Linked DNA regions of Homo sapiens: regions 1, 2 and 4 are each linked to region 3. The links come from fine-mapping of genetic effects on gene expression. A gene starts in region 3. Each other region holds a variant in brackets. All regions are shown on one strand. Distances are between the middles of the regions. Region 1 overlaps TPCN1 (two pore segment channel 1). Region 2 overlaps SLC8B1 (solute carrier family 8 member B1). Region 3 holds the start of TPCN1 (two pore segment channel 1). Region 4 overlaps RASAL1 (RAS protein activator like 1).

The links. PIP is the estimated chance that this variant, and not a neighbour inherited with it, causes the effect.
Region 1: its variant is fine-mapped to the expression of TPCN1 in whole blood (TOPMed, PIP 0.97).
Region 2: its variant is fine-mapped to the expression of TPCN1 in whole blood (TOPMed, PIP above 0.99).
Region 4: its variant is fine-mapped to the expression of TPCN1 in whole blood (TOPMed, PIP above 0.99).

What each region holds. Positions count from the first base shown.
Region 1 is chr12:113,280,094-113,288,196 of GRCh38, forward strand. TPCN1 (two pore segment channel 1) reads left to right here. Exons shown (of 28, transcript NM_017901.6): 15 at 58-102; 16 at 4,488-4,544; 17 at 4,625-4,678; 18 at 5,796-5,868; 19 at 6,894-7,001; 20 at 8,070-8,103. Among named protein-coding and RNA genes, the nearest start is that of MIR6762, 7.4 kb to the right of the region's middle. RefSeq lists enhancers at 600-769, 7,627-7,794. The variant A/G (reference allele first, on the strand shown) is at 4,860.
Region 2 is chr12:113,313,567-113,321,669 of GRCh38, forward strand. SLC8B1 (solute carrier family 8 member B1) reads right to left here. Exons shown (of 16, transcript NM_001358345.2): 3 at 7,630-7,782; 4 at 7,490-7,542; 5 at 7,284-7,341; 6 at 7,015-7,120; 7 at 6,765-6,932; 8 at 5,398-5,505; 9 at 3,376-3,435; 10 at 2,960-3,090; 11 at 1,769-1,910. Among named protein-coding and RNA genes, the nearest start is that of SLC8B1, 17 kb to the right of the region's middle. The variant T/A (reference allele first, on the strand shown) is at 4,167.
Region 3 is chr12:113,217,206-113,225,308 of GRCh38, forward strand. TPCN1 (two pore segment channel 1) reads left to right here and starts at 4,259. Exons shown (of 28, transcript NM_017901.6): 1 at 4,259-4,421. It overlaps DRC10 (dynein regulatory complex subunit 10), which reads right to left and starts at 3,889. Exons shown (of 5, transcript NM_001330452.2): 1 at 3,792-3,889. RefSeq lists enhancers at 3,488-3,637, 6,968-7,137 and a silencer at 5,959-6,253.
Region 4 is chr12:113,122,112-113,130,214 of GRCh38, forward strand. RASAL1 (RAS protein activator like 1) reads right to left here. Exons shown (of 21, transcript NM_001301202.2): 3 at 5,954-6,067; 4 at 5,701-5,762. Among named protein-coding and RNA genes, the nearest start is that of RASAL1, 9.6 kb to the right of the region's middle. The variant G/C (reference allele first, on the strand shown) is at 5,008.

The DNA.
Region 1 (8,103 bases), 63 kb after region 3:
ACAGTAGGGGGAACAAGTGCGTAAATTTACATTTTAACTTGTCTTTTCTTCAAATAGGTATTAATATCCTTGTGAAGTCCAAGGCCTTCCAGTATTTCATGTGTAAGTGTGAAATATCTCCACTCTAGGCCACTTTCCCCCTGAGTCCTTTGCTGTTCTAGAAGCGGGAGAGGCAAGAGATTGGTCCTAGAGTCCTGTGTTTGACTTTTTATTGTGGGGAATTCCCAGCATGTATAAAAGTGAAGAGAACATTACCACACGCATCCCCGTGCCCATCACCCATCTGTATCTTCACTCCGGCTCATCATCCTCTCTAGACCTAGATTTTTTGGAAGCAAATTCCAGAACCACAGAGTTGACTGGTCGATATGTCTCTTGAGTTTGTTTTAATCTATAGGCTTCTCTTCCTCACCTCATTTAGGTGAGGAAGCAGGATTTGGGTTTTGTATGTTCCTCTGTTGCCTTTTCCTGGAATTTGGTAGTTCTGTCTAGAGCCATGCTGTGCAGTGTGGAAGCCACTGGCCACATGTGGCAATTTACATTTAAGCTAATTAAAATGAAAAATTCAGCTTAGCTGTCACATTTCAAGTGATTAATAGCCACAAATGGCTAATGACTACCAATTGGATTGTGCAGATAAGAAAATTTGTATTGTCACAGAAAATTCCCTTGGACAGTACTAACCTAGAGGCTTGATCCAATTTGGTCTTTCCAAGGAGCTCTGGTTCCTTTTAGTAGGAAATGGTGTTAGAGACACAATTCGAGGTGCTGGGTGCTCATTGCTTGGGTTGGTCATTGTTTCTAGGCCTTTCCATGGACAGAACTAGGGTTTTGTTTTTTTTAAAGATAAACTGTTGTGCGTTCATGCTAATACTTCACATTCAGGCCTACAGCAATTTTAAGATTAAGAATCTAGATGTGTAAGACTGATTTCATCAATCTTACACGTCTAGATTCTCAATCCTTTTTTTTTTGAGACAGAGTCTCATTCTGTCGCCCAGGCTAGCGTAATCTGTGCTCACTGCAACCTCTGCCTCCCAGGTTCTAAGTGATTCTCCTGTCTCACTCACCTGAGTAGCTGGGATTACAGGTGTGTGCCACCACGCCCAGCTGTTTTTGTATTTTTAGTAGAGATGGAGTTTCACCATGTTGACCAGGATGGTCTCGAACTCCTGACCTCAGGTGGTCCACCTGCCTCAGCCTCCCAAAGTGCTGGGATTACAGGCGTGAGCCACGTGCCTGGCCTAGATTCTCAATCTTAAAATCCAGGTTGTCTTTGAAGACAATCAGACACCAACAAAGAAAAAAAAATAAATATCCAGGTTCCCAACTACACTGGCACAGTTATTCATTTGCTTTGTCTCACAGTCCCAGGATAACAATTGCAAAGCAATCCCAATGATATAATTACTAGAAACATCATTCCAATGATGTACATTCAGATTACTGTGGGTTTTTTTGTTTGTTTGTTTTGAGACAAAGACTTAGGTCTGGTGCCCTAGTGGCATAGTCATGGTTCACTGCAGCCTTGACCTCCCAGGCTCAATCCATCCTCCCACCTCAGTCTTCTGAGTAGCTGGGACCACAGGTGCATGCCACCACACCTGGCTAATTTTTTAATTTTTTGTAGAGACGGGGTAGCCTCATGTTGCCCAGGCTGGTCTCAAGCTCCTGGCCTCAAGCCATTCTCCTGCCTTGGCCTCCCGAAGTGCTGGGAGTACGGGTGTGAGCCAGTGTGCTTGGCCTTGTGTTTTAAGGTCATGTGGGATAGTTCCTCTCCATGTGGACATGTCACCAACTGGATACACATTTGGATTTCTTTTTTTTTTTTTTTTTTTTGAGACAGAGTCTCACTCTATCTCTGTCACCCAGGCTGTGGTGCAGTGGCATGATCTTGGCTCACTGCAACCTCTGCCTCCCAGGTTCAAGCAATTCTCCTCCCTCAGCCTCCCAAGTAGCTGGGATTACAGGTGCCCACCACCACACCCGGCTAATTTTTTTTTTTTTTTTTTTTTGAGACAGAATTTCACTCTGTCACCCAGGCTGGAGTGCAGTGGCGTGATCTCGGCTCACTGCAAGCTCCGCCTCCCGGGTTCACACCATTCTCCTGCCTCAGCCTCCCAAGTAGCTGGGACTACAGGCACCCACCACCACGCCTGGCTAATTTTTTTGTATTTTTAATAGAGACGGGATTTCCCCACGTTGGCCAGGCTGGTCTCGAACTTCTGACCTCAGTTGATCCACCTGCCTCGGCCTCCCAAAGTGCTAGGATTACAGGCATGAGCCACCGCATCCGGCCTACACATTTGGATTTCTTTATGCCATGTTATTTTTTATTTTGGGGGATTGCTTTTGGCATTTAATTTTGTTTTATGGCCGGGCATGGTGGCTCAGACCTAAAATCCCAGCACTTCAGGAGGCCGAGGCGGGTGGATCACTTGAGCCCAAGAGTTTGAGACCAGCCTGGGCAACATAGTGAGACCCCTGTCTCTACAAAAAAAAAAATACAAAAATTAACTGGGTATGGTGGCTCACACCTGTAGTCCCAGCTACTTGGGAGGCTGAGGTGGGAGGATCACCTGAGCCTGGGGAGGTTGAGGCTGCAGTGTGCCATGATCGCGCCACTGCACTCCAGCCTGGGCAACAGAGTGAGACCCCCCTATCTCAAGAAAAAAAAACCCAAATTTTGTTTCATAATTATGTAAATTAGGCCTGGGCATGGTGGCTTATGCCTGTAATCCCAACACTTTGGGAGGCCGAGGCGGGCAGATCACTTGAGGTCAGGAGTTCGAGACCAGCCTGAGCAATGTGGTGAAACCCCATCTCTACCAAAAATAGAAAAAATTAGCCATGCACGCCTGTGGTCCCAGCTACTTGGGAGGCTGAGGCAGGAGGATCACTTGATCCTGAGAGGCAGAGGTTGCAGTGAGTTGTGATGGTGCCACTGCACTCCAACCTGGGTAATACAGTGAGACTCCATCTCAAGAAAAAGCAAAAAAAAATTATGTAAAATACTTACATGGTTCCAAGTCAGATCTACCAAAAAAAGTATATTGAAGGAAGTTTAGTTTATATCCCTGTCACTTCCCACAGTGGGCAACTTTTATGTATGGCTTCTCCTTCCATTGTTTAAAACCTGTAAGTTGGATACCTATCAATATATCTGTCTTAAACAATAGCATATTTTATGCACTTTTTTCTGCCACCTGGCTTTTTGCAGTTAACAATATGCCCTGGAGACCGTAATATGTAGAAATGAGGCTGGGTGTGGTGGCTCACACCTGTAATTCCGGCACTTTGGAAGGCAGAGGCAGGTGGATTGCTTGAGCCCAGGGGTTCAAAACCAGCCTGGGCAATGTGGCAAAACCCCATCTCTACAAAAAATACAAAAATTAGCTGGCGTGGTGGTGTGCACCTGTGTTCCTAGCTACTCAGGAAGCTAAGGTGGGAGGATTGCTTGAGCCCAGGAGGTGGACGTTGCAGTGAGCCAAGATCACGCCCCACTGCACTTCAGCCTGGGTAATAATAAAACCCTGTCTTAAAAAAAAAAAAGTAATATGTAGAAATGTACCTCATTTCTTTTCTTTCTTCTCTCTTAGAGAGAGGGTCTTGCTCTGTCACCCAAGCTGGAGTGCAGTGGCACAAGCATAGCTCACTGCAACCTTGACCTCCTGGGTTCAAACGATCCTCCCACCTCAGCCTCCTGAGTAGCTGGGCCCACAGGTGCACACTACCACACCTGGCTAGTTATTTTTATTTTTTGCAGGGATTTGGTCTCCCTGTGTGCCCAGGCTGGTTTCGAGCCCCTGGGCTCACGCAATCCACCTGCCCCAGCCTTTCAAAGTGCTGGGATTACAGGTGTGAGCCACTGTACCTAGCCTGTGTTTCTTTTTTATGGTTAAAGTATGCCAGTTTATGAATGTATCGTAGTCTGTTCAACCAGTCCCCTACTGATGATCATTGAGATTGTTGCCAGTGTTTTGCTATCACAATAGTGCTGCGGTGAGTAGCTTTCAGATACATCTTATATTTTTGCTAGTGTGTCATTGGGATGGTTTCTGGAAAGTGGGATTGCTAGGCGAATGGCTTAATGCATATGCAGTTTTTCTAAAGAGTTCATGCAATTATTTTAAAATTAGAAGTCTCTAGGGGAAAACAAGTGTTTTCAATACTTGAATGCCTGGTATATTGTCCCTCTTTTACCTCAATTTGGAATAATCTCTACATCATAACTGGTATTCATACAGTGACAGAGGGAGTGTTTTTAGAAATTTATAGCTGTTTCTAGGTGAAAACACTGGTTGATTTAGCTCCCTTGGTAAGAGCACTGAGCAGAAAGAAGTTCCCTATCAAATGGGTGTGTGGAGCAGCCCTGTTCTCCCCATCCCGTAGAGCTCCAGGAAGTTAACCAGGGACTTCAGCTGCGACCTGCAGATTTCTAAGCCCCCCTGTTATTTCTCTGTCTTTTACGGGCCTGTGTATTTCAGACTTGGTGGTGGCAGTCAACGGGGTCTGGATCCTCGTGGAGACATTTATGCTGAAAGGTGAGCCCCGCTCAGGGACTGGCCGTGTCCTGGCCGGCACACCTGGCTTACCTGTGAGCTGCTACTTCTCTGTCTTACAGGTGGGAACTTCTTCTCCAAGCACGTGCCCTGGAGTTACCTCGTCTTTCTAACTAGTACGTTTCCGACATGGCTTTGCTGGACTGCTTGTTTTAAAATTGTCTGGGAGAACTTTCATTCAGTGTAGAACCTCATGGTTCTTCTCTAAAACAGGAAGCTATAAAGAGACGGAGTAATCAGTCTGATTCCATCTCGTCCCCGTTTAAAACTCTTTCGTGGTTGTCCGCTGCCCTCTGG[A/G]TGGAGCCCAGATCCTAGGCGTGTGTGACCCTCCACTCGGCTCTGCAGCCCTGCTGTTTGCCAGCGCCGTGTCCCCCGCTGCACACTGTTGCTCTCCTCAGCAGCCTCTGCTCCCTGCTGCTCTTGCCTGCCTCTGGGCTGTGCACAGGGGTTTCCTCTGCCTGGTGGTGTCTTCCTCTAACCTCTGCCTGACTTTCCTGCTCTTTCCATCAAGTCTGAGCACACTGTGTTGTCATTCCCTGTTGGCGTCTTTCCTCCCACCTAGCTGATAAGCTCTGTGCCCCCAGGGTTGCCCTGCACTGGTCACTTTTGCACACCTGGTACCCAATGCAAGGCCCAAGGTAGAAGGGGTAGTCAGGACACACCTGTTGGATGGACAGATGGTTAGCTGGGCCCTGCCCAGAGACAGGCAGGGAGGATTTCTCTCTCTTTTTTTGGGGCAGGATCTTTCTCTGTCACCCAAGCTGGAGTGCAGTGGCGTGATCATAGCTCACTGCAACCTCAACCTCCTGGGCTCAAGGGATCCCGAGTAGCCTCAGCCTCCCAAGTAGCTGGGATTACAGGCACACAGCGCCACAATGCCTGGCTAATTTTTGTATTTTTTGTAAAGATGGGGTCTCACTATGTTGCTCAGGCTGGTCTCCAACTCCTGGGCTCAAGTGGTCCTCCTCTCTTGGCTTCCCAAAGTGCTGGGATGATAGGTGTGAACCCCTATGCCTGGCCAGTTTCTCTTAAGCAGATTACCCAGTTGGCCACCATCTAGGCCCTCTCCTGGAGCACCTGCTCTCACGCTGGGACATGAGTGAGGCCTGGGCTCAGCCTGGAGGGCTTATGGCCAGCAGGGAGGCTGCAGACTGTGGAGGAGCCTCAAAGAGGAGACCGAGCATGGGGGAGGATGTGGCGGGGCTGCTGCCGATGGATTCCTTCTGTCCACAGTCTATGGGGTGGAGCTGTTCCTGAAGGTTGCCGGCCTGGGCCCTGTGGAGTACTTGTCTTCCGGATGGAACTTGTGAGTGGACAGCATGTTTCTGACCCAAAGCTGAGACTCTTGAGGATGGCCCCAGACCCTTCTCTGCACACCCTGATCCCGGGCCATTTCTGGAATCGCAGAGGGAGGGTCTGAGGATGGGCTGAGGCCTATGTCTCCCTCAAGCAGCCCTGCCCACAGCCCAGGAACTCCCCAGGGTCAGGCCCTTGTCTGAAGCCTCTCAGACCACCCACACCGTCCTTCTGGAAACGGCCTCTTGAGGTGCCATAGACTGATTGGCTCTTCCTGACTCATTAAACTTTTTTCTCTTCCATAAAAGCCACAATGCCCACAGAAAAGAATGCTCCCCCCCTTCCTTGATCAGCAGTAATGAGACCCCATGTGGCCCTTCTCCCTATTCCCCAGAGCGTTGGAGGTCACTTCCCTGCCCTGTTCAAGTTAACCGGCCTGTGAAGTCAGGCTGCACTCATGAGGTCTTGGGCCGCGAGGGTGAGCGGGTTAACACGCAGAGCGGAGTTGGGAGGAGCCGACAGCACGTGTGTGCCCTGCGTGTCTGGAGAGGAGAGAGGGTCCTCTGGCTTGGGGCAGGGCGAGCTGTTCTCCCGATGGGAATCTCACTGGAAGGGCCTGCTCTCTTCCCTCAAAAAGTTCCTTGGGGTCAGGCTGGTCTGCAGTGTGTAACCAGATGTCTGTTGAGCGGAAGACGAGGCCTGTCTCCAGGGCTGCGGAGGCCAGGGCTGCAGAGGCCGGGGCTTCTTTCCTTCTTGTCGTTAGACCAGCATGGGGCCCTTTGTAGGGGTTCCCGGGCATTTCTGGCCTTGGGGTCAGAGCACTGAGGCCTGACCCGTGAGACGCATGCTGGGACAGGGCCTGGCCACCTTGAAACCCCAGGGTGGCAGGAAGTTCTTCCCGCAGCCGGCTGGTTCCTGTTGGTGTTGCTGTGTCTGGGCTCTGTGGGAGGGTGGCTGTGCACAGGGCCAGGGAGGGGAGCAGGCGCAGGTAGGCTCAGGGCCACAGGGTGGACCTTGGCCTCTCCCCTACTGCAGGTTTGACTTCTCCGTGACAGTGTTCGCCTTCCTGGGACTGCTGGCGCTGGCCCTCAACATGGAGCCCTTCTATTTCATCGTGGTCCTGCGCCCCCTCCAGCTGCTGAGGTGATGGGCAGGGCAGAGCCGGAGACAGGGAGAAAGAGAGGGAGGACGGGAATGCCCCAGGATTGATCCGGGAAGTGACCCAGAATGAGCCAGAAGGTTCACAAGCCAGAGTCACAGATGTCACCCCCTGGAGAATCACCATGGGGTCAACATCCCCACCCCTGAGGGTGTGCAGGCTGCCTGTGCCCTTCCCCTCACTGCACCAGGTGCCTCTGGGCAGAGAAACCCAGCCCATGACTCATGTGCACCCCACCTGAGGTGGCATTGCACCAGCGACAGGAGCCCATATGCTCAAGTCACAGATCACAGAGCCACAGGTCTGAGGGTTGGAAGGGCCTTTCAGGGGCCCTGCGTGCTTTTCTGGCTCAGCGTCTTATGGAGAAAAACCCTCGTGTGGGTCCCACTGGTTTCCCAGGGACACTGGAGAAAGTCCCAGACGAGCCTGCCCCACTGACGGTGTCTCTTCCTAATGAGGGGTCCCGAGGTCCTGTGCCCTCAGAGCCTGGGCTTGCCTCCTGACCCTCCAGCTGCAACCCCATCCACGTCCGCCCCATCCTCTCCCAAGGCGGGACAGGCGGGGCAGGTGCGGGGAGGGGTGGTGGCGTCTATGGAGGAAAAGCCTACCCCCTTGGCGTGTGGGGGTGGCCTGGGGCTGCTCCTGAGTGTCCGCCTCCGTCCCGCCCCCTGCCACCCTTCTTCACTGGTGAGCTCCATTGCCCCCGCTCCCCGGGGCACATGGGCTTCTCCCCGCTCTTTCCCAGGAGCAAGGCCTTGCTCCTGTCTGAGCCTGCAGCTCTACTGCAAGGAGATGTGGCCTGGCCCTGCTCCTCTTCGTGGAAGGACCCCGCCCAGCCGGTGTCCTGGGGCTGCCACCATCCCTTCCCTCATGCATGAATCACCTGAGCCCAGCTCAGGGTTGGTGGCGCCCAAGGGAGTGGACGCAGGTGGAGGAGAGGCCCTCACCTGTCTTCACCGCATGGCGTGTGGAAGGCGGGGCCGGCATGTTCTGAGGGCGGGGGCTGAGGCGTGCACCTGTGTGTGGAGGTGACGGGTGTCCTCCTCGCTCAGGTTGTTTAAGTTGAAGGAGCGCTACCGCAACGTG
Region 2 (8,103 bases), 96 kb after region 3:
CCCGCCTCTACTAAAAATATAAAAATTGGCCGGGCATGGTGGCGGGTGCCTGTAGTCCCAACTACTCAGAAGGCTGAGGCAGGAGAATTGCTTACCCTAGAGGTGGAGGTTGCAGTGAGCCGAGATCGTGCCACTGCACTCCAGCGTGGGTGACAGAGTGAGAGTCTGTCTCAAGAAAAACAAAGAAAAATATCAAATGTAATAGTATAGAGTAAGAGCAAAATTGAGAAGATGGTCTGTGAATGACTGATGTGTGGGAATCACTCTTTTAAGAAGCCACAACAAATACAAAAATTAGCCAAGCATGGTGGCAGGTGCCTGTAATCCCAGCTACTCGGGAGGCTGAGGCAGGAGAATCACTTGAGCCCTGGAGGCAGAGGTTGCAGTGAGCTGAGATCATGCCACTGTACTCGGGTCTGGGTGACAGTCAGACTACGTCTCAAAATAAAATAAAATAAAAATAAATAAATAAATAAATAAAGATGCCACAACGCTTGTGAAAGCAAGTCCCTGGATTTGCCCTGGCCTGAAAGGCAAGGCTTCCCCGCTCCGTAGAGAATGGATGGAGAATGGAGGGCTGTGATGAACCAGACGGCCCTAGTGGGTGGCCCTTTTCAGCTCTGAGTCACTCTCTATCAATCATCTCTCCTCCTATCTCCTTCCCTCCATGTCTGCATCCTCCCACAAACCGGGGGAGAAATTCACAGGGAATGTGGCAAGGAGGCTGTTTCATCCCGATGGAGTTTCATCCCGACACTGTTACAGCACACAACACCATGCCCAGCCATGCATCTGCACCAGAGTCCTACCCCCACCTCCAGGCGAAGCCCCTGGGCTGAGGGGGAGGAGCCTAGATGATAGGAAACAGACAGCATGAGATACTAAAGTTAGACAACAGGAAGAAATCTGGGTAGCAGAAGTTAGAAGACGTTGGACAAGCCTGGGCGTTTCCTCAGCCAGAGCAGGACAAGAAAGAAAAGGACATTCTGGGGCAGATGGGGAAAATTCAAATGCCAGTGGGGACCAGCCAGGTCACATAAACGAGGGAAGGGGCACCCAACAGGCAATGGAGGGGACTGTGATGATTTAGGCCACAGGCACCCCATAGGGGGTGCCCCTTCTCTGCTCCAGCCAGTTTTGCCTTCAGGAATGTGGCCCAGATCTTGAGAAGCCAAAATCCAGATTTTAAGATAAAATCCCCCAATTTTTAAATGCAGGCAAACAAGCTAGAGGGCTGGATTTGGCCCTGGGGTCACCTGTTTTGCAGCCTCCATCTGGGGCCAGCAAGATTGGATCAACTGACTGCAGGAGGTCCCCTGGGTGAACTTCCAGGCTGGTGTCCCTTATGGCACAAGCGCATAGTAAGCGCCTGCTGTATATCCAGGTTTCTGCCTCTAGCCCAAACCTCCCTCACGTGGTTGAGAAGAAAACTCCACTGGCTGTGCACGGTGGCTCACGCCTGTAATCCCAGCACTTTGGAAGGCCAAGATGGGCGGATCACTTGAGGTCAGGAATTTAAGACCAGCCTGGCCAACATGGTGAAACCCCGTCTCTGTGAAAAATACAAAAATTAGCTGGGCGTGGTAGTGCACGCCTGTAATCCCAGCTGCCCAGGGGGCTTAGATGGGATGATTGCTTGAACCCGAGAGGTGGAGGGAGGTTGCAGTGAGCTGAGATCGTGCCACTGTACTCCAGCCTGGGTGGAAGAAAACTCCAGAACGTGGGAAGGAGTAGGAAGGTGGGTTGGCCCGGGGTAGGGGATACTCACAGGTCCCCGACTGCAGGGTCAGGACCACAACCAGGGGGCTGATAACCAGATGCAGACAGTTGAGGGGCCGTTTCCAGTTCTGGTCATCCTTGTCCGGGTCCACGACGGGGACTGTGAGGAGCAGCAGGAACTCCACAGGCAGCTGTCAAGGGGGCAAAAGTGGGAGGGTGTCGGCAGGGAAGTCTGAATCCCAGCCGGCCACAGATGGACTTCAGTGACTCAAGAGCTCGGCCGTTCATTGCTGAAGCACTGACTGTGTGCGGGTTCCAGGCTAAGTGCCTGGTTGCCTCTGGCTACTGGGACAAATGACCACAAACAGTGACTGTCAATAGCACAGATGTATTCTTGGACAGTTCTGGAGGGCAGAAGTCCTGAAGTCAAGTTGTCAGCAGGGTTGTTCCTTCTGGAAGCTCTAGGGGAGACTGAGGGTCCTTCCAGCTTCCAGGAGCCACCTGCCTTCCAGGCCCCACATCATTCCACCCTGTGCTCCTGTCGCCACTTCTCAGTCTCTGACTCTGACCCTCCTGCCTCCCTCTTTCCTTGTGCCAACCCCTGTGATGACACTGGGCCCACTGGATAAGCCAGGCTCATCTCAGATCTTTAATGATGGCTGGATGCGGTGGCTCACGCCTGTAATCCCAGCACTTTAGGAGGCCGAGGCGGGCGGATCACGAGGTCAGGAGATTGAGACCATCCTGGCTAACACGGTGAAACCCCGTCTCTACTAAAAATACAAAAAATTAGCCAGGCGTGGTGGCGGGCGCCTATAGTCCCAGCTACTCAGGAGGCTGAGGCAGGAGAATGGCGTGAACCCGGGAGGTGGAGCTTGCAGTGAGCCGAGACCGCGCCACTGCACACTCCAGCCTGGGCAATAGAGCGAAACTCTGTCTCAAAAAAAAAAAAAAGATCTTTAATCACATCTGCAAAGGCCCTTCTACCATAAAGGTAACATACTCCCAGGTTCCAGGGGTTAGGATATGGATGTCTTTAGGGGCCACTAGAGGGCAGAGCCCCAGGTCAAGCCATCAGCCAAGCTCCACGCCTCAGTTTCCCCATCAAATCACAAGTCATGTATTCTGAGAGGGTCTCAGTGGACCCCAGGCCCTCCCCCTCGTAGAGCTGGAGAGGGTAGCGTGGCCACTGTCTTGCTGCTGTCAGAAGGCTGTGAGCCTGGCTCCAGGACCCTCCTACCTTGAACACCTTGAGGGCTTTCCAGTATGCTGATTTCCTTCTCCACTTCATGTAATCCAGGGGATTGAGGGCCCGGACCAGGATCTGAGCCGTGGTCTCCTGGTAGAAGAACAGCGGCCGGTACTCATCACCTGTGTGCAGGGGTCGGGTGGTGAGGTGTGCCTGCGGCTGACTTGCTCTCCAGGAAACCTTCCCCGCTCCATCCCACCAGTCCTCCCAGCCCTAAAGGAGGAGACAAAGCCCAGTACTCGGCAGAGGGCAGACAACCCTGGCCCTTGGCTCACCTGAGCTGCAGTGAGAGGTGGGGCCGATTTGGAGCCTCATTCCTGGAGCCCAGGTCTTGGAGGGCCCCATCTTTCCACCCCCAGCCTTTCCCTGTTACCGCCACCCTGGCTGGGCACAGGGCACGGACTCACCGTAGTCATAGCTGTTGGTATTAGAAGATACCCGGTCCTCCTCGGAGTCTGAGAGGATCTCTGCAGGAGAGAGGCCCAGTTACATACAGAACCCAGACCATTTTCGAGGGGGCACACTGGGACAGAGCAGGTTTAGGGGTGCAAGTGTTCAGGCCATCTTATTTACTTAGTTATTTGGGACAGGATCTTTCTCTGTCACCCAGGCTGGAGTGCAGAGGTGTGATCACAGCTCACTGCAGCCTAGACCTCCTGGGCTCACTCAATCCTCCCACCTCAACCTCCCTCCCTCCCGAGTAGCTGAGACTATGCCCAGCTAATTTTTAAAAATTTTAGAGATGGGGTCTTGCTATGTTGGCCTGGCTGGTCTCAAACTCCTGGCCTCAGCAGTCCACCCGCCTCAGCTTCCCAAAGTGATGGCATTACAGGCATGAGCCACTGCGCCCGGCCACGTCCAGGCTGTCTTTATTTTGGATTTCTAGCAGTCTGCATGCGTGCTCAGGGATTCTTACACAGTGAAAGTCTAATTCACCAAACATGGCCAAATGTAAGCATGCAGCTATAATGCTAAAGTTAATAGGGGCATCTGAAGGCACAACTCAAACATTTATTGACTTCAGTGTTGTCCTTTTCAGAATCTGGAACCCATACTATTTTTCTCTTCTCAGGAGGCCTGTGGATGCTGAGAGGCCTGGGACCTGTATGGAGGGGCCTGAAAGGAAAATGGCCCTCCTCGAGTGAGGAGTTAGCTCTCGCCCTGATTCTGCTGCTGAGTGTGTTGTGTGTGTTATCTA[T/A]GTATGTGCATGTATTTGTTTATGTGTGTGTGCATGTATTTGTATGTGTGTTGTGTATGTGAGTGTATTTGTGTGTGTGCATGTATTTGTGTGTATTGTGTATGTGAGTGCATGAATTTGTGTATGTGTATGCTGCATGTTTGTGTGCATTGATGTTTTTGTGTTGTGTATGGCATGCATGTATGTGTATGTTGCATGTGTGTGCATGTATCTCTGTTGCAGGTGTATCCTGTGTCTATACACATTTGTGTGTTGTGTGAGCATGTATTTATGTGTGTTGCATGTGTGTGCACATATTTGTATGCATGTGCATGCATCTGTATGTGTTGCATGTGTGCATATATTTGTGTCTGTTGTATGTGTGCGCATGTTTGTATAAGTGTGTTGTGTATCTGTGTATGTTGTATATGTGTGCATGCATGTTTTGTGTTGCAGATGTGTATGCATGTATGTGTTGCACATGTATGTGCATGTATTCATATATGTGTTGTATGTACACATTTGTGTGTGTGTTGTGTATTTGTGTTGTGTGTGCATGTATTTGTGTTGCATGTGTGTGAGCATGTATTTGTGTATGTGCGCATGCATGCATCTGTATATATGTTGCATGTGTGTGCATGTACTCCTATGTGTGTTGTGTGTGTTGTATATGTGTGCATGTATTTGTGTGTGTGCATATATTTGTATGTGTGTTGTGTGTATACACGTATGTGTATGTGTTGTATGTGTGCATGTATTTGTGTGCATGTACATGTGTGAGTTGTGTGTGTGCATGTATGTGTATGTGTGCATGTATTTGTATATGTGTGAGTTGTGTATTTGTGTATGTGTGTTGTGTGCATGTATTTGTGTATATGACTGTATTTGAATATTATTGATTTCTTTGTATTTATTTTTTATTTCTCAGTGTCCCTGTCACGGCAGCGTTTGTGTTTTACCCTGAGAATGGTGGGAAACATCAGGGCAGGGAGCAGTGGCGATTCTTAGAGAGATGGCCCTGGCAACTGCATAGAGAGAAGGAAGGAGTGCACTTGAGCCTGCAGGTGATGCAGAGGCTCATGGGTACCAGTGGAAGCACGGAGGCGGGACCTCAGCAGAATGAGTAGAAAGAGCATGAAGAGGAGATGAGCTTGGTGGGGACAATGGCCTCAGGAGACCCTGGGCAGCACTGAAGGGCACAGAGGCCCCCAGTCCCCACTGGTCCTCTCTGGGGTCCGATGCAGACTCTTACCTGGAGTAACTGGCATGGGGCAGAACAGAGATCCTCTCCGTTGCCGTTGGTAGATCCAGGTGCAGAGAATCACAGTGACCACATAGAACACATACAAGCCCAGGTAACCTGCAGACGGGGTGCACGCCGTCACCAAGTGGTGTCCTGGTGCAGGTCTAGAGAACAACAGCTGGCAGTTCTATCAGTGGTGCGTGTTAGCGGTGGCAATCTGTGTTAGCCCATCCAGGTACCAGTGGGTAAATGGCCTTTTCCTTGAGCTCCCCACTCCTTCCTCCTGCCTTCCAGGACCATCTCCCTTCCTGTCTCCCTTGCAATCAAGGAGGTAATACCCAAGCACAGCGAGAGACCTCCAGGTCCCCATTCAAGTACTAAGGGTCGGTGTCCTGCTCTGTGCCCTGGGAGGAGGCAGCCCTGTAGCTCTGGCTACAGCTAGGTTCAGCCAATGGGAGGCCAGACAGGAAATCAGAAGCAGCGGGAGAGACTCTGGAGTCTTTCTTCCTACTCCCTCCCTGTTGCGTGTCTCTGGCAGGGCTTGCAACCCTCTTCAGTATAGCTCCAGGCCTCCAGCCCTCCAACTCTCACTGGGCTCCACCACCCCCTTCCCTGCCCCTGCTGCCACGAGGGATGAGTGCGTTCGCAGCTCCCATTGTTGCTGGCCCCTGAGTATCTCGAATCTCGGTTTCCCTTGCTGGTTTCATTTTCCTTCTGTACAAATTGTCCCTCCATTCATACCCCTTGAGCCGTCTGAATGGAACATGTTTGCTGTCACGATCCGGGTGGCCCCAGTTAGCGTCCCATCTTTACTGCTTGTTAAAATTGGAAATTATGAAACTTTCTTTTTTTTGAGACAGAGTCTTGCTCTGTTGCCCAGGCTGGAGTGCCATGGCACAATCATGGGTCACTGCAGTCTCGAACTCCTAGGCTCAAGGGATCCTCCTGCCGTAGCTTCCAGAGTAGCTGGGGCCACAGGAATGCACCACCACCATGCCCAGCTAAGTTTTTTCTTTTTTGTAGAGATGTAGTCTCGCTATGTTGCCCAGGCTGGTCTCAAACTCCTGAACCAAAGTGATCCTCCTGCCTCAGCCTCTCAAATTGCTGGGATGATAGGTGTGAGCCATCACGCTTGGCCAAAAAATTGTGACACTTTTGAATACTCCCTCCCCAGCCCCCAGCTCTGCCAGGCCTCTTTGGTTATGTGACCCACATGTTCCCATTTTTGCTCAAGCCAGCTTGAGGAGGGTTTCTGTCACTTGTAATCAAATCAAAGCCCCCACTGACCACCCCTCACACCTCTCTGTCCCAGGCACCTCCTAAACCTCCTGCCCATCAGCCCTGGGATCTCACGCCTGAGCCCCAGAGCTGCTCACCCAGAGCCCATGCCAGGGTGACCCTGCCACGGAAGAGCATGAGGAAGGTCAGGAACACAGCCACCATGTAGAAAACGATGTCCCTGAAGAAGGGCCTGGAGGCAGCCATGAAGGGGTGTAGGATGGTAATGCCTCCGGCCACCACTGTGGTAACCAGCACGCCAGCGCCTGGGGGGAGGAGGCCAGAGCTCAGCCACCCTGCACCCTCTCCTGCTGCTTTCCCCGCCCCCCTCACTGGGGCTGCTCTCACCAAACAGTGCCCCAAGGGCCAGGCCGGCTGTGTGCGGGTCAGAGAAGGCCACCAGGGCACTGAAGATGTCAGGTGCACCATTCCCAAATGCCAGGAAGGTGACGCCATGTGGGGAGCATGTCAAGGCGGGCCAGGATCGCAGCTGCAGCCCACCCAGGCCTTCGACCCTATCCCCCAGCTTCCCCACACGGGGATAGACATGACCCTATCTCCCAGCCTCCCCACAACTGCCCTCCCTCCAGGGTGCAGGACACTGGACAAAAGGATACTGCCACGTTGTGGGAGAGCTTCAGTGTGGTAGAAATGGCCGACAAGTTGGGGCAGAAACTACGGAGAAAAAGCGGACGGGAAGCATTTCCGTAGTAACCGGCCCCGGACCCCTATCCTTCCCCCAAACTGAGGGTGACCGAATGTCAGCCTCCTGGGACCCCTCCTCCCATTGATAAGCCAGACCGGAGCCCAGAGCCAAACTCACAACTTGGCTGCGGTGACTCCCAGAATCAGAAACAGGTAGAGCAGCCAGGAAACCTGGGTGGGGAGCGGGCGAGGAAGGGAGAGTCAAGTCCAGCTGGAGACACCAGCCCCTCTCACCAGCCCCCCAGGGCAGGGCCTCACGTAGAGAGTGACAGCCAGAGGGAGGAGGCTGGGAGGGAAGTGGCAGAAGATGCCTTCCAGGTAGTCCAGGTACCCCCCATCACTGTGGCAGTCAGGGTTGGTCCGGATGAAGTCACAGCGGTCAGAGACATTCAGGCCACACACCTTGCGGCACTGCAGGAAGACAGGGAGGGGGACATCAGCGGCAGAGACTTCCCTGAGAACTAGACTAGGCCCATCTAAGCAGCTAAACATAATGTCCCTTCAGCCTGGTCTCCAAGGCCACCATACCCTCTGGGTGCCAACTATGGATGCACTTTTAATTTTAAAAATAAACGTCTGCTTGAAATTGACATAAGTAATTCATGAATACATATTTGTTTTTTAAAAAAACCAATACATAAGATTTCTAAATTCCGCTTTCTTATCCCTGCCCTCCGTAAATCCCCCTCTCCAGTGGTCCCACCATAATTAGTTTGAAGCACATCCTTACAG
Region 3 (8,103 bases):
ATTTCTCATTCTTTAGGTCTTAGCTCAATGGCTACCCCTCCTCAGACTGGAACAGACAGCACTTTACAACCTGTGGAAACTCTCTCACCTTTCCTGCATAGTACTAATCACACGTGTAATTTTTTTTTTTTTACAGCTCTATTGAGGTATAATTTACATTACCATAAAATTCACCCATTGTAAGTGTAAAACTCAGTGACTATTTTTGTAAATGTATCTGAAGTTGCCACATCACTACAATCCAGTTTTAGAACATTTCTATCACTCCCCCCAAATTCCCATGAGCTAATCTGCAAACAATCTCTGCTTCCACTCACATTTTTTGTTGTGGTTGTTTTGTTTTTGAAACTGAGTCTCGCTCTGTCGCCCAGGCTGGAGTGCAGTGGCGTAATCTCGGCTCACTGCAACCTCCACCCCCCTGGTTCAAGCAATTCTCGTGCCTCAGCCTCCCAAGTAGCTGGGATTACAGGTGCGTGTTACCACGCTTGGCTAATTTTTACGTTTTTAGGAGAGACAGGGTTTCAGCATGTTGCCCAGGCTGGTCTTGAACTCCCGGGCTCAAGTAATCCACCTTCCTTGGCCTCCCAAAGTGCTGGAATTGCAAGCGTGAGCCACTGCCCCTGGCCTCCACTCATATGTAACTTTCCTGGATAGTTCATATAAATGGGATCATGCAGTATGTAATTGTTTGCATCTGACTTTTTGCTTAGCACAGTGGTTTTCAACCTGGGGCAACTTTGCCCTCCAGAAGACATTTGGCAATAATCGGGAGATGCATTTGCTTGTCACAACTGAGAGAGGCTACTACTGGCATCTTGTAGGTAGAGGCTCGTAATATTGCTAAATATCCTACAATTGGCAGGATAGTTCCCCACAACAAAGAATTTTCTCACCCAAAACATCAATAGAGCTGAGGTTGAAAAACCCTGACCTTTTTTTTTTTTTTTTGAGATGGAGTTTTGCTCTCGTTTCCCAGGCTGGAGTGCCATGGCGTGATCTCGGCTCACTGCAACCTCTGCCTCCTGGGTTCAAGCGATTCTCCTGCCTCAGCCTCCCAAGTAGCTGGGATTACAGGCATGCGCCACCACGCGCAGCTAATTTTTTTTTTTTGTATTTTTAGTAGAGACGGGGTTTCTCCATGTTGGTCAGGCTGGTCTCAAATTCCCTACCTCAGGTGATCTGCCTGCCTTGGCCTCCCAAAGTGCTGGGATTTACAGGCGTGAGCCACCGTGCCCGGCTGCCTTTTTTTTTTAATAGACAGGGTCTTACTCTGTCACGCAGGCTAGAGTGCAGCAGTGCAACCATGGATTACTGTAGCCTTGACCTCCCCAGGCTCAGGTGATCCTCCCACCTCAGCCTTCTGAATAGTTGGGACTACAGGTGCATACCACCATGCCTGGCTAATTTTTGTATTTTTTGTAGAGATAGGGTCTCACTTTGTTACCAGGCTCCTAGGCTCAAACTCCTAGGCTCAAACTAGGATCCTCCTGCCTTGGCCTCCCAAATTGCTGGGATTACAGGCGTGAGCCACTGGGCCAAAAACCCTCAACTTAACATGTTTTTGAGGTTCATCCAGGTTGTAGCAATTATTAGTATTTCATTCCTGAATAGTATTTTATTGCTGAATAGTATTCCATTCTAAGGAAATATCATGAGTTATTTATTTATTCACCTGTTGATGACATTTGGGTTGTTTCCAGTTTTGGGCTGTTAAGGGTGATGTTGCTAAGAACATTTATATTTAAGTCTTTGTGTGGACTTATGTTTTCACTTGGGAGGGGTAACTTCCTAAGAGTGGAATTGCTAGGTTATGTGTAAGTTTATTTTTTGTTTTATTTATTTATTTTTGAGACAGGGTCTCACTCTGTCACATAGACTGGAGTGCAGTGGCACGATCTCGGCTCACTGCAACCTCCGCCTCCTGGGTTCAGGTGATTCTCCTGCCTCAGCCTCCCAAATGGCTGGGATTACAGGGACCCGCCAGCATGCCCTGCTAATTTTTGTATTTTTAGTAGAGACGGGGTTTTGCTATGTTGGCCAGGCTGGTCTCGAACTCCTGACCTCAGGTGATCCACCTGCCTGTGCCTCCTACAGTGCTGGGATTACAGGCACGAGCCACTGTGCCTGGCCTATGTTTAACTTTTTAAGAAACTGCCAACTATATTTCAGATTGGTGGTACCAATTGGTATTCTGCTGTACCTACCGGCAACATATGAAAGCTACAGTTTGTTTATTTATCTACATGATGATACTTGGTATTGTCTTTTTGATTTTTAAATGTCTACTCAACTCTTTTGCCCATTAAAAAAATTGAGTTGTCCTCTTATTGAGTTATAAGAGTTATTTTTATATTCTATATACAACTCTTTTATGACACATGATTTGCAAATATTTCCTCCATGTCTGTGTCTGTGGCTGATCTTTTCATTTTCTTATGAAAATATCTTTTGAACCTCAAAGTTTTTTTTTTATATATTTTTTTGAGACAGGGTTTTTCGCTCTGTCGCCCAGGCTGGAGTGCAGTAGTGCAATCATGGCTCACCGCAACCTCCGCCTCTTGCGATCAAGCAATTCTCCCACCTCAGCCTTATTTATTTATTTATTTATTTATTTATTTTTTGAGCTGGAGTCTCGCTCTATCACCCAGACTGGAGTGCAGTGGCACGATCTCGGCTCGCTGCAACCTCCACCACCCGGGTTCAAGAAATTCTCCCGCTCAGCCTCCTGAGTAGCTGGGATCACAGGCACACGCCACCAGGCCCGGCTAATTTTTGTATTTTTAGTAGAGACAGGGTTTCACCATGTTGGCCAGGCTAGTCGCAAACTCCTGGCCTCAGGTGATCTGCTGGCCCAGGTGATCTGCTGGCCTCGGCCTCCCAAAGTGCTGGGATTACAGGCTGAGCCACCGCGCCCGGCCCTTAGCCTCATTTAATCATCACAAGAAACTCTCTGTCTTCAGTAGGTACAATGAGATCACATCTTAAGGATGGAGATGGGAGTTAAATTCCAAAGTTAGGATAAAGGCAAAAGTGGTGTAATAAAAATTACCTAATTTATTTATTTATTTGAGACAGAGTCTTGCTCTGTTGCCCGGGCTGGAGTGCAATGGCGCTATCTTGGCTTACTGCAACCTAAGTCTCCCGGGTTCAAGTGATTCTCGTGCCTTAGCCTCCCGAGTAGTTGGGATTACAGGTGCGCCTCCATGCTCAGCTAATTTTTGTATTTTCAGTAGAGATGGGGTTTCACCATACTGGCTAGGCTGGCCTAGAACTCCTGACCTCAAGTGATCTGCCCGCCTCGGCCTCCCAAAGTGCTGGGATTACAGGCGTGAGCCACCATGCTCGGCAAAAACAACAACAACAACAACAAAACAAACAAACAAAACTACCTAATTTAAACACTGAAGTGAGATTGCCTGCTCACCGAGGAACGTATGGCCGTTGGGTGAAATGGGAGGGGACTTATAAACTCCCCTCCCACCCACAGCTCCCATGTTTGACTTGAAATAAGTTAACTACGATATGACTCTGCTTGACTGTTGTCCTCCTCGTTTTAGGGATGAGGGAGTGGAGCCATGAAGTGGGCAGGTAGAAGGGCAGAATGGAGGCCGGCTCCCTGCAGGTTGTGGAGCGAAAGGTCCAGACTAAGGCAGGAGCTGAGGGACAGGGTCCTGAAGCTGAGACGAGATCGCAGCGGGGGCTTCTAATTCCTCAGGGAGCCAAAGGACAGAGGGCTGAACCCTATTCCACATCTCCCCCGATCCGCGACCCTTTCCCAACTGGCTACTCACCTGCTCTGACCGCTCCAGGTTTCCCTAGCCACAGTTACCGCCGCGGTCCCTGCGTTGCTAGGTTACCCGCCAATCTCAGAAGGCGAGACTCGGTGTCTGACTGACCTTTCTTTTCACCATTCAATTTATTGTTCCGCTCAGTTGTCCCCACCTCCTGAAGTCTGACCAATCAGAAGCACCGCCATTTTGACCTTTCACCAATGGAAAGACTTGGGACTCCCTCTGGGTTGGACTCAACGAGTAAGGCGGGGAACAAGGGAGGAGTAAGGGGCGTGGATTCTTCGTCCCGCCCCTTCTTAAGGAGGCGGGCAGGGAGTACCGCATCGGCGGCGGGCGAGACCTGCGGAAGGACGTGATAGTTGGCCAATCAGAGTTCATCACGGTAGCCCAGTTAGCCAGTAGGACGCTGTGAAGGGGAAATGGGGCGGGGCCAGCGGGGTTGAGAGGACGGTAGGCGGTGGATAGGAGAGCTGGCGCAGCTGCCCTGGTGGCAGTGGCTGAAGTGGCGGCGGCTTCGGCGGCTGCGGCGGCTGCAACAGCTTCGGGCTCGGGGTTTTGGCGGCGGCGCCGGCGGGCTAGGCTGCGCGGTGCGGACCCCGGCGCGCGGTCCGGGTTGCTGGGGCGGCGCGTGTAAGAATCCGAGGGATGCGACGGCTTGGCCCGAGGGAGAGGGCAGGGATCAGGGGTCAGAGGACGCGGAGTAAGGGGTTGCGGCGCAGCACTCTGGTGTGGGAGGTGGGCCGTACGGGCCCAGAGGGGGCGCAGGGAAGTCTCCACCGCGCTTCTCTCCGTCCAGCCCGGGCCGGGGCTTTGCACCCTCTCTCCTCGCCCCCGACTTCTTAGGGCGACCCTCACGTGGGCTCCCAGCCAGGGGCTGGGAGCACGTGGAGCTGGAGCCAGCTGTCCTGCCTCCTTCTTCCTCCCTCCCTCGCTCTTCTCCCTGGCGCCCTTAGGTGACCCCACAGGAGTCTTGTGCCTGGGTCAGGCTGCCCCAGCGGACAGCGGGATGGTAGCTGAACCTCTTCCCCTAGGCCCTTTCCCCAGCGCTGGCCAGTTGGGTCCTCTGTAGAGGCAGAAGCAAAGCCCGCGGAGGGAACACTGGACCAGGACGCAGGAGTCCCGGGTTCTAGCCCTACTCCTCCACTGTGTGACCTTGGGCAAGTCTCTTCCCCTCTCTGGGCCTCATTTTTGTCTGTCTGGAAAAATGACGTGTTTGAATTCAAATCAGGGGACTGGTTCTAGTCGTAGGTGTATATAGGGTAATGGTTAAGCAGGCAGGGTCCCTGATTCAGACTGCCTGGGTTGAAACTTATAAAAGGCAAGTTAACCACTCCAAGCTTCAATTTCCTCATTCCTAAAGTGGGGATATTAGCTAAGATAGGATTTTTCAACAGCAGCTCAGTTGACATTTTGAGCCACATAATTCTGTTTCGGGAGGTCTCACCTGTGCATTGAAGCAAGTTCAGTGGCATACCTGGACTCCACCCACCAGCAATCCCCCCACTCCCAAGTTGTGACAGTCAAGATGTCTCCAGACATTGCCGATGTCCCCATGGGGGCAAAAATCACCCCAGTTGAAAGCCAGTGGGCAAAGGCAGTACAGGCAGGCAAGCAGTCATATATTAAACAGTTAAACAACCGTGTTGAAGCATTTGAATGCGAGGACTTTAATCTATGGTGGCAGATATCATGAAAATTATGCATGAACAACCCCCCTGCCTCTTTTTTTTTAGCTCATCATTAATGGTAGTGTATTTTATGTGTGGCCCAAGATAGTTCTTCCAGCGTGGCCCAGGGAAGCCAAAAGGTTGGACAGCCGTGAGTTAAAACATAGAAACCACTAGCCATTATGATAATGGTAACATTAAGAAACCTCTTCTCTGTGAGTTAATAAATTCTCCTGCCTTCAAAGTAAACATGGGAGATAATTGTCAAAGCTGAGTAATGGATACAAGGAAGTTCACGTATATATTCTCTGCACTTTTGAGAATGTTTGAAAATATCTGTGGTAAAAAGTTAAACCAAAACGACAATACAACCATAATTCTTAAGACTGCCAAATAGTAGTGTCTCATCTGGGATTTCCTCTTCTGCCTTTCCACTGCTGAGATTTAAAAGCAAAATAAATCCCCAGATCTGGAGGAAACTTAAGAAAAAAAAACTCACAGGAAGTGTGCTGGGCAGAGAGCTACGGGCTTAGCAGCAAGTAGAATGATGTTTACTTTCGCTGCCTTGTTTCAAAACGTTGTACTGTTCCCTGTGGATGCACAAGGATTTGCTTGGAGTTGTTCCAATGATTCGAGGAAGAAGTCAGTTGCTCAGCTGCCATTGACTAGGTCAGTTGGGAGGCAAAGTGGGTTGAGCCCAGAGCCCACAGCTTGAGGAAGGAACCTGCTGCTGTTTGCAAGTTCAAAGGTCTGCAGTCAGATCTGCTGAGTCTTTTTTTTTTTTTTTTTGGTTCTTCTCAGCGGAAACGGGAATGTGCATAAATAGGAGCTGTAACAGGCTAGCTCGGAGTGTTTTACTTATTTAGTTATTTTTAAATTTTTAGTTTATTTATTTTTTGAGATGGAGTCTCGCTCTGTCGCCCAGGCTGGAGTGTAGTGGCGTGATCTCAGTTCACTGCAACCTCTGCCTCCTGGGTTCAAGTGATTCTCCTGCTTCAGGCTCCCCAGTAGCTGGGATTACAGGCATGCACCACCACACCTGGCTAATTTTTGTATTTTTAGTAGAGACCAGGTTTCGCCATGTTGGCCAGGCTGGTCTCAAACTCCTGACCTCAAGCGATCCACCTGCCTCGGCCTCTCAAAATGTTGGGATTACAGGCATGAGCCACCACTCCCGGCTGCTCTGAGTGTTTTAAATTGGGAGTTAAGGATGAGCACTTTTACTGTATTAAAAAATACTCACCAGTTAAAAAAAAATACTCTTTTCCCCTTCCTCGGACACCTAAATCTAAGAGAACAACTCCTATATAAAAATGATATAAAAATCATACATTTTGGAAGTATGTTTCTAACTGTTCTGAGAGGCTGCATGGTAAAGCTGAAGTGAAAGATGTATTTTAAATCTGTATATATGAGCAAGTATATATTGATGATTGAAGCTAGGTGCTGCCTAAATACATGGCCCAGACTTTGAGGAATTATAGTGTAATGGCTGGGAATACAGGTTTGGAGTCACACCGTAGAGCTGAAAGCTTGGCTTTTATTTAGCTGTGGGTCCTTGGGCAGGATACGTAATCTGTCTGTGCCTGAAATACCCACCACACCCATCCTGTAATGGGGGGATAATAAGCCTGCCTATCTCATGGGGCTATTAAGAATTTTCAGTTAACTTTTACTTATGAAGTGCTAGTAGGGTCCCTCATACATAGTACGCACTCATTGAGTATTAACTATTATTATTATTACTATTTTGAGACGAGTCTCGCTCTGTCGCCCAGGCTGGAGTGCAGTGGTGCAATCTCGGCTCACTGCAAGCTCCGCCTCCCGGGTTCACGCCTTTCTCCTGCCTCAACCTCCTGAGCAGCTGGGACTACAGGCGTCTGCCACCACGCCCGGCTAATTTTTTGTATTTTTAGTAGAGACGGGGTTTCACCATGTTAGCCAGGATGGTCTTGATCTCCTGACCTCGTGATCCGCCCGCCTCGGCCTCCCAAAGTGCTGGGATTACAGGCATGAGCCACCGCGCCTGGCCGCATATTAACTATTATTTTAATGGTTGTATTTTTTTGTCATTTAATTTAATTAAATTAATTTATTTATTTATTTGAGGTGGAATCTGGCTCTGTCGCCCAGGCTGCAGTGCAGTGCACCATCTCGGCTCACTGCAACCTCTGCCTCCTGGGTTCAAGTGATTCTCCTGCCTCAGCCTACAGAGTAGCTGGGATTACAGGCGCAAGCCACCACACCCAGCTAATTTTTGTATCTTTAATAGAGGCGGGGTTTCTTCATTTTGGCCAGGCTGGTCTTGAACTCCTGAGCTCAAGTGATCCACCCGTCTCTGCCTCCCAAAGTGCTGGGATTACAGTTGTAAGCCACCGTGCCCAGCCTTTTATTTTACTTTATTTTTTAGAGACAGGGTCTCACTCTGTTGTCCAGGCTGGACTGCAGTGGTGTGATCATAGCTCACTATAACCTCCAACTCCTGGGATCAAGTGTTTCCGTCACCTCAGCCTCCCAAGCAGCTAGGCCTACAGGCATATGCCATCATACCCAGCTAATTTAAAATTTTTTATTTTGTAGAGATGGAGTCTTGCTACATTGCCCAGGCTGGTCTTGAACTGCTAGGCTCAAGCAGTTCTCCCACC
Region 4 (8,103 bases), 95 kb before region 3:
AGGAGAAAGAGTTTTGTCCATGGTCTCACAGCTAGCAAATGGCAGAGCTGGAATTTGAATGCAGGCAGTATAGTTAGTTCTAGGGCCAATGCTCGTAGCCATGTGCCATCACACACTTCCCCCTGGTATAGAAAGAACTTCATCATGTAATCCCAACATACTCTCCCCTCAAAAAAATCTTGGACATTTCTCCCCTCTGTATTTCTCTCAACACTTTGAAGATATTGTTCCACTGAATTCTAGCTTTCCATCACCAGGCTGGAGTGCCGTGGCACAATCTCAGCTCACTGCAGCCTCAGCCTCCCAGGCTTAAGCGATCCTCCTGCCTCAGCCTCCCCAGTAACTTGGACTACAGATGTATACCACCACAGCTAGCTAATTTTTTGTGTTTTTTGTAGAGACGAGGTTTTGCCATGTTGCCCAGGCTGGTCTCGAACTCCTGAACTCAAGCCATCTGCCTGCCTTGGCCTCCCAAAGTTCTGGGATTACAGGCAGGAGCCACTATGCCCAGGCTTTTCTATCTATTATAATTCTAAGGACTATGTCTCTGATGCACTGCAGTTTCATCACAATGTGTCTAGATACAGATTTTTTAAAATCCTGCTGAGTAGAGATTGCACTGCTTCTATTTATGGAATCATATCCTTCCTTTATTTCTGCAAAATTCTAGATGATTGATTTTTTAAAATTATTTCCTCTTCCCAATTTTTGTTATAATTTTTGCCTGTCTCTAATTTTTAAAATTCTATCCTTCTGGAACTCCAATTAAATAAATGTTAAACCTCCACAGTTATTTTCCATGTCTCTGAATTTCTATTTTATTTTTTCTCCTTTTCCTCTGAAACTAATTCTGAATAATTTCTCTAGACCTTTCTTCCAGTTCACTAAATCTCCCTTTAACTATGAATAATCTGATGTTTCACTCAACCACTCCATTTTTTATTTTGACAATTATACTTACCTCTAAAAGTTTTATTTGGTGCTTTTCTAAAATCTGTCTGCGTAATTACTTGTAATTTATTGCTGTTATTGCAGACCTTTCTTGTGATTACATCTTTTATTTCTTTAAATCTGATTCTTTTTAAAAATCCCGTATATTATAATTACAGAATCTAAAGTCTTTGTGGGTCTAAATCAGATGATTATTGTTTCTGCTGACTATTGCCCATGGTGTCTCATTTCCTTGTGTGTTTGCTGATCTTTGATTGTGAAGTCATGTTTGTTTGATCTTACTCTGGGAAACCTAAGTGAACATGCTTATCCCTAGAGAGGAGCAGGAGTTGGTTATTCTGGGACCCCTTGAGGGTCTCAGCCTAATGGAGAATTCTCATGTTGAGTAACATCCACCCTGCCCCTTGTCCAAGTTTTAGTCTCTTTGTTGAGTGTAGAATTGATACTGACGTCTGCTTTCAGGGAAATCCTTCATGGTCTCCTTGCTTTTTGTTTACCATTCACTGTTAGGTTTTAGCTAATGGTTTTTGTTTTTGTTTGAGATGGAGTCTCACTCTGTCACCCAGGCTGGAGTGCAATGGTGCAATCTTGGCTCACTGCAAACTCCACCTCCCAGGTTCAAGCAATTCTCATGTCTCAGTCTCTCGAATAGCAAGGATTACAGGCACCTGCCACCATGCCCATCTAATTTTTGTATTTTCAGTAGAGTGGGTTTTCACCATGTTGGCCAGGCTGGTCTCGAACTCCTGACCTCAACTGATCCGCCAGCCTCGGCCTCCCAAAGTTCTGGGATTACACACGTGAGCTATTCCACCCAGTCTCATGACTTGAGATGGAAAAAATACTGAGGGATTTCCCGTTCTATAAAGAAGTTTGGCCTGGCATGGTGGTTCACACCTGTAATCCCAAAAGTTTGGGAAGCCAAGGTGAGCTGATCACCTGAGGTCAGGAGTTTGAGACCAGCCTGGCCAACATGGCAAAACCCTGTCTCTATGAAAATACAAAAAAAGTTAGGCATGGTGGTGCATGCCTGCAATCCCAGCTACTCCAGAGGCTGAGGCATGAGAATCGCTTGAAACTGGAAGGCGGAGGTTGCAGTGATCTGAGATCATGCCACTACACTCCAGCCTGGGTGATAGAGCGAGACTCTGTCTCAAAAAAAAAAAAAAAAAAAAAAGTTACCACAAGTCCAACAATGTATTAGGAACCCTATTTAATCCAGGATCTCACTGTTGTATAGCAGGAGAGTGCTTTTGAGGATTGAGTCCCGCCAGCTGCTGAAAGTAGAAGTCTCATCTCACATCTCTCTATCTCCACTGCAGCCTCCACATTTCCGCCACATGCTTGCAGACACATGGACACGTTCCTTCTTTTCTTGCTGCCTGTTCTGTGGGAATGTGTTCTGTTTTCCTATCCAAGTCCACAAGTTCCTGCAAGCCAGGCCTCAAACTTCACTCATTTAATTTCACTGCCCTGGGAGGATGTTTGAGGTACACTGGGTACAGCTCAGTGGGCAGATTAAGAGCACAGATTTTGGAGGCCGACAAAACTTGGGTTGGACTCTGATTTCTGAACCTTCTAGAAGGGGGAAGTCACCTCCCCTCTCTATGCCTCTGTATATTGGAGATCATTCTGGTGGACACTTCACTGGTGTGTTGAGAAGTAAAGCGCTTAGCACCATGCCTGGCATATAGTAGGCCCTCATGAAATAGGATTATAATGATGATCAGCACATAGTAGGTTTTCAACTAATTCCCACTGAGGGAAATAATGCATTATTCAATAAATGGTATTGAGACAATTAACAGTCATGTAGACAAAAAGTAATAAAGTTTAATCCTTACTACATACCTTGTATCTAGGCAAATTCCAAATAGATCAAAGACTTAAATGTGTTTTTTGTTTAATGCAATAAATGGCCAGGCATGGTGGCTCACACCTGTAATCCCGGCACCTTGTGGGGCCAAGGCAGGAGGATTGCTTGAGGCCAGGAGTTCAAGATCAGCCTGGACAACATAGTGAGAACTTGTCTCTTAAAAAAAAAAAAAAAATACATATACATATATGTGTGTGTGTTTGTGTATGTAATACATTAATGTTAGAAGGAATTATGTTTTAAAATGTTTCTCTTAATCTTAGAGTTGAGAAGTTCTTTTTAGGTCTAACAGAAAATTCAGAACCAAAAGAAAAATATGAGATTAAATATAGAAAAAGAAATTTTATACATGAAAAAATTACAGGCAAAGTCAAAACGTAAGAGACAAATGGAGAAAAAATATTGCAGCTAATTTGACAAAGAAGTAACTGCCCAAATATGTAAAGAGCTCCTACAAATCAATAAGAAAAGGCAAACAACCTAGTGGGGGGAAATTCATGTATAATATGAGTAGACAATAAATGGAAGAGAAAATAAAGTGATTCTTCAAAACTGTATATAAAAAAGGCTCATGGAGAAGTGCAAAATAAACCTATGCTGAGGCAATATTTCACCTATCAGATACACGATCAAAAAGTTTGATAACTGGCTGGTCTGAGTGCGGTGGTGTTTACAACTAATTGATCACAAAAAGTTTGATAACTGAGAGAGTGTGGGGTGAGTGAACTGCTACCTCTTCCATGGAGGGTAATTTAGCAACAACTATCAAGTATGCAAATGTGTGCACTCTTTAATTCACCTCTAGTAATTTATCTGACCGATGGATATAACTTACATATGTGTGAAATTTTATTTGTACAGGCTAGTTATTGTAGCATTGCTTGAACCAGGGAAAGACTATGACCTCCCTAGATGCCATCAGTAGGGAACTAGCCAAATAAACAATGGTAAAGCCACACAATGAAGCACCACGATGCCATCCCAAACGAAGAATGCGGAAACTCTGAGACCACTGTTATAGGAAGATCTCAGAGATACTTAGTGAAGTGAAAAGGCAAGGTACAGGCCGGGTGCAGTGGCTTATGCCTGTAATCCCAGCACTTTGGGAGGCTAAGGCAGATGGATCACTCGAAGTCAAGAGTTCGAGACCAGCCCGGCCAACATGGTGAAACCCCATCTCTACTAAAAATACAAAACTTAGCCGGGTGTGGTGGCAGACCCCTGTAATCCCAGTTACTCAGGAGGCCAAGGCAGGAGAATTGCTTGAGCCCGGGAGGCAAAGGTTGCAGTGAGTTGAGATTGTGCCATTGCACTCCAGCCTGGGCGACAGAGCAAGACTCCGTCTCAAAAATAAATAAATTAATTAATTAAAAAAATTTTAAAGGCAAGATACAGAGCAGAGTGTAAAAGGCTGCAATTTGTATAAGCACAGAAAAACACAGTATTAAGAGCGCAGACTCGGCTTGGTGCAGTGGCTCACACCCGTTATCCCAGCACTTTGGGAGGCCAAGGCAGGTGGATCACTTGAGGCCAAGAGTTCAAGACCAGCGTGATTTCACATGGTGAAACCCTTCCTCTACAAGAAATACAAAAATTAGCCAGGTGTGGTGGTGCACGCCTGTAGTCCCAGCTACTTGGGAGGTTGAGGTGGGAGAATCACTTGAGCCAGGGAGGTTGAGACTGCAGTGAGCCAAGACTGCACCACTTCACGACAGCCTGGGTGACAGAATGAGACACTGTCTCTCTCTCTCACACACACACACACACACACACACACACACACACACACAAAAGGCATAGACTCTGGAACTAGACAACTTTGGTTCAAATCCTGGCTGCCTCACTTAATAATGTGATCTTGAGCAAGTCATTTAACTTTCTGTGCCTCAGTTTATTCACCTATAAAGTGGGCATTAATAATTAGAGCACCTGCCTCTCAGGGTTATGATGAACCTACATCACTGAGTCCATAAATATAAAGAATTAGTGTTCAGAATAATATTTATATATAATTATTATATATAAATATGTTATATGTTTATATTTATTATATATAAATATGTTATATGTTTATATTTATATATACAGTATATAAATGTTTGCTGCTGTTATTATTTTTAAATTATTTTTAGTAGCAATGGGGTCTCCCTATGTTGTCCAGGCTGCTCACGGACTCCTGG[G/C]CTCAAGCGATCCTCCTGCCTCTGCCTCTGCCTCTGCCTCCCAAGGTGCTGGGATTACAGGTGTGAGGCACAATGCCCAGCCTGCTATTACTACTGTTACTTGCTTATATATGTTTAAAATATTTCTAGAAGGACATACAAGAAGCTGACAATGCCAGGAAGGGAACAGAGTAGCTGGGGTGCTTATCATAAAATCTGAATGTTGAACTAGGCAAACAAATTAACTGCTCAAAAACTAAAGACAAGGCTGGGCATAGTGGCTCACACTTGTACTCCCAACACTTTGGGAGGCCAAGGTGGGAGGATTGCTTGAGCCCAGGAGTTTGAGACCAGCTTGGGCAACATAGCAAGACTCCGTATCTATAAGATATTTCTGAAAAAATTAGCTGGGTGTGGTGGTGTGCACCTGTAATCCCAGCTACTCCAGAAGCTGAGATGGGAGGATCGCTTGAGCCCAGAGGTTCAAGATTGCAGTGAGCTATGATAGCACCACCGCACTCCAGCCTGGGTGACAGAGCAAGACCTCATCTCTAACAACAACAATTAAAAGCAAACAAAAAGTAAAGACAAAAGCAACAAGAGAAATAAGTTTCCACTGAAGGCTCTGTGCTTCACCGTGCCATGTGCTATGCCCCTGCAAATGCCCACCCTGGGCATGGCCCCCTCCTCCCTCTGCCCATGTCCCTCGCCCACCTCGGGGGTCGGCTGTAATCGCCTCCCTGCTCAGCGAGATCTTGCCGATGATGTCGTCGTGCCTGCAGGAAGGCGGGCACGTGAAGGTCTGAGTCAGGGGCCCCTTTGCCCCGCCCCAAGAGAAGTGGGGGCAGGTGTCAAGGTCTGGGTGGGAGGGCACACCCTCGTGGGCTGTGGACCCACATCCCCTCTCCCCTCAGGTGCCCAGGCTTGGGTCCCTAACCCACACATTCCACTTTCCCCAACCACAAACCCGACAGTGTCCTCATCCAGCACGTAGAAGGCCAGCTGGTGGAAATCCAGAGGCAGGTGCACCGTGTACTCCTCCCCCCAGAAGGGGCCCAGGCTCCTCCAGACAGTAGCTGTCCTGCAAAAGGAGGTGCAGGGGGCTGGGGTCCTCGGGCCACACAGGAGGCAGACACCTGGAGACCCAGACACACACACACACACACACACACACACACACACACGGGAATCCAGACACACACACACTCAGAGACCCCCCACATGAACCCAGTTAGAGGCCCAGACACACACACACACCCAAGGACAGCCACTCCAAGATCCTAGATATGTACTCACCCAGGGACACTGGAGCATGTATGAATCCAGGCATAGAAACACACACAGACCCCAACACTCACATACCCAGAGTATCAGACATACACCAGAGATCTCAACACACACACACACACACACACAGAGGCACATACACAAAACACACACATGATCCTACACACCCACATACAGGGCCCCAATACACATCTAAGGTCCCAGATACACAGAGACCAACAGACATGCATAGCAACCAACAGAAACATATGTGCAGATACACACACACGGATTCACACTGAGACAGAGTTGCTCACAGATACACCAAGGAGGCCAGAGACAGAGACACATTTACACATAAGCAGATACACATATGCACCCTCAGAAAGTCCTAAAAACATGTACCTTTGTGTTTGGAAATCCAGACACCAGACACATGCAGATAGACACATAGAAAACAGACACATATGAAAACATATGAAAATAGACATATGTCGGGAACACAGAGACACACTCAGAGATCCAGAGACACACTCTCACACACTTACAATGATACAAGGCAGGTACACATAGAGACACACACACAGTCATACAAACACACAGTCACTGACACACACACACACACACACACACACACACAATTCCATTCATTCATTTGTTCATTCGTTTACTCCATAAACATTCACTTGGACTATGGGCCCAGCCTGTGCTGGGCTCCAGGGATCAGAGGAACAGGTGTCAGGGCTGCTTACCCCACAGACCCCCCTTCCACAAGCAGGCGCTCTCTCCCAGCAATTAGGACATGGTGGGAGAAGTCCTGGGATTGGGGTTAGCTCAATCGCCCCTGGTTGGGTCGTGGGGGTAGGGTCGGAGGGGATTAGGGAAGGCTTCCTGTAGGAGCTAGTCAGGCAAAGTGGGGAGAGACAATGAGGACAAGGACAAGTATTCCAGAAGGCTGGAACAGCATGGGCAAAGGCCCTGTAGCAGGAATGAGTTTCGTGAGCTGAAGGAATAGGAAGGTGCCTGGTGGGAATGGGGGAGGGAGAGGGGCCAGGAGACAGGAGGTGAGCAGGGGACAGAGCACTCGGGGCTTTGAAGCACACAGTGAGCAGGAGGAAGGCACAGGAAGGATGGGGACCAAGATAAGCCCAGAAACAGGTGCACACACACAGCATCTCTGCCCTGACATCCCTGCAGGGGTACTTCCCTTTACCCAGCAGAGAACAGATTCTACTTGCCCGGTAAAGACACACCCACATTTGTGGATGCAAAGTTTGGTTCTCATACCTGTTGCTCCCTTCCTCCCTCCTTTCACCACACTGTGCCCTAAGAAAGAGTGCACATATGCGCGCGTGCGCGCACACACACACACACACCCCGCCTTCTTCCTCCAGCCCAGCGGCACCAACCTCAGATGGACCCCCAGTGCTTCCTCCCAAATACCCTCTTCCCCCAACCTGACCTTTTCCCAGCCAAAGGTCTTCTGAACATTCCCCAGCTCCTGAGCTGAAAGGCTTCTTACAGCCCAGAGAGGGAGAGACAGCAGCCTGGGGTCACACAGAAAATCAATCTGTGGGTTTGGGGTGGTGTCAGGGAATGTATCAAGGGGCCAGCATGAGCACTGGGAGGACAGTGGAGGGGAGTCAGTGGAGGGGGGAGCTACAGCTGACCCCTCCCCCAGGCAGGCTCCCCACCCCCAGCTCTGAGCCCATCTGGACCAGAATAGGAGCATCCTGAATCCTGCCGTCTCCATAGGAACCAAGGCCTCAGCCACCCACCAGCCCACCCACCCCCATCAGGCCTCCAGGGGCTGAGAGCTGTCCCTCGGCCTGCGGGGGTGGGAGCCAAGCA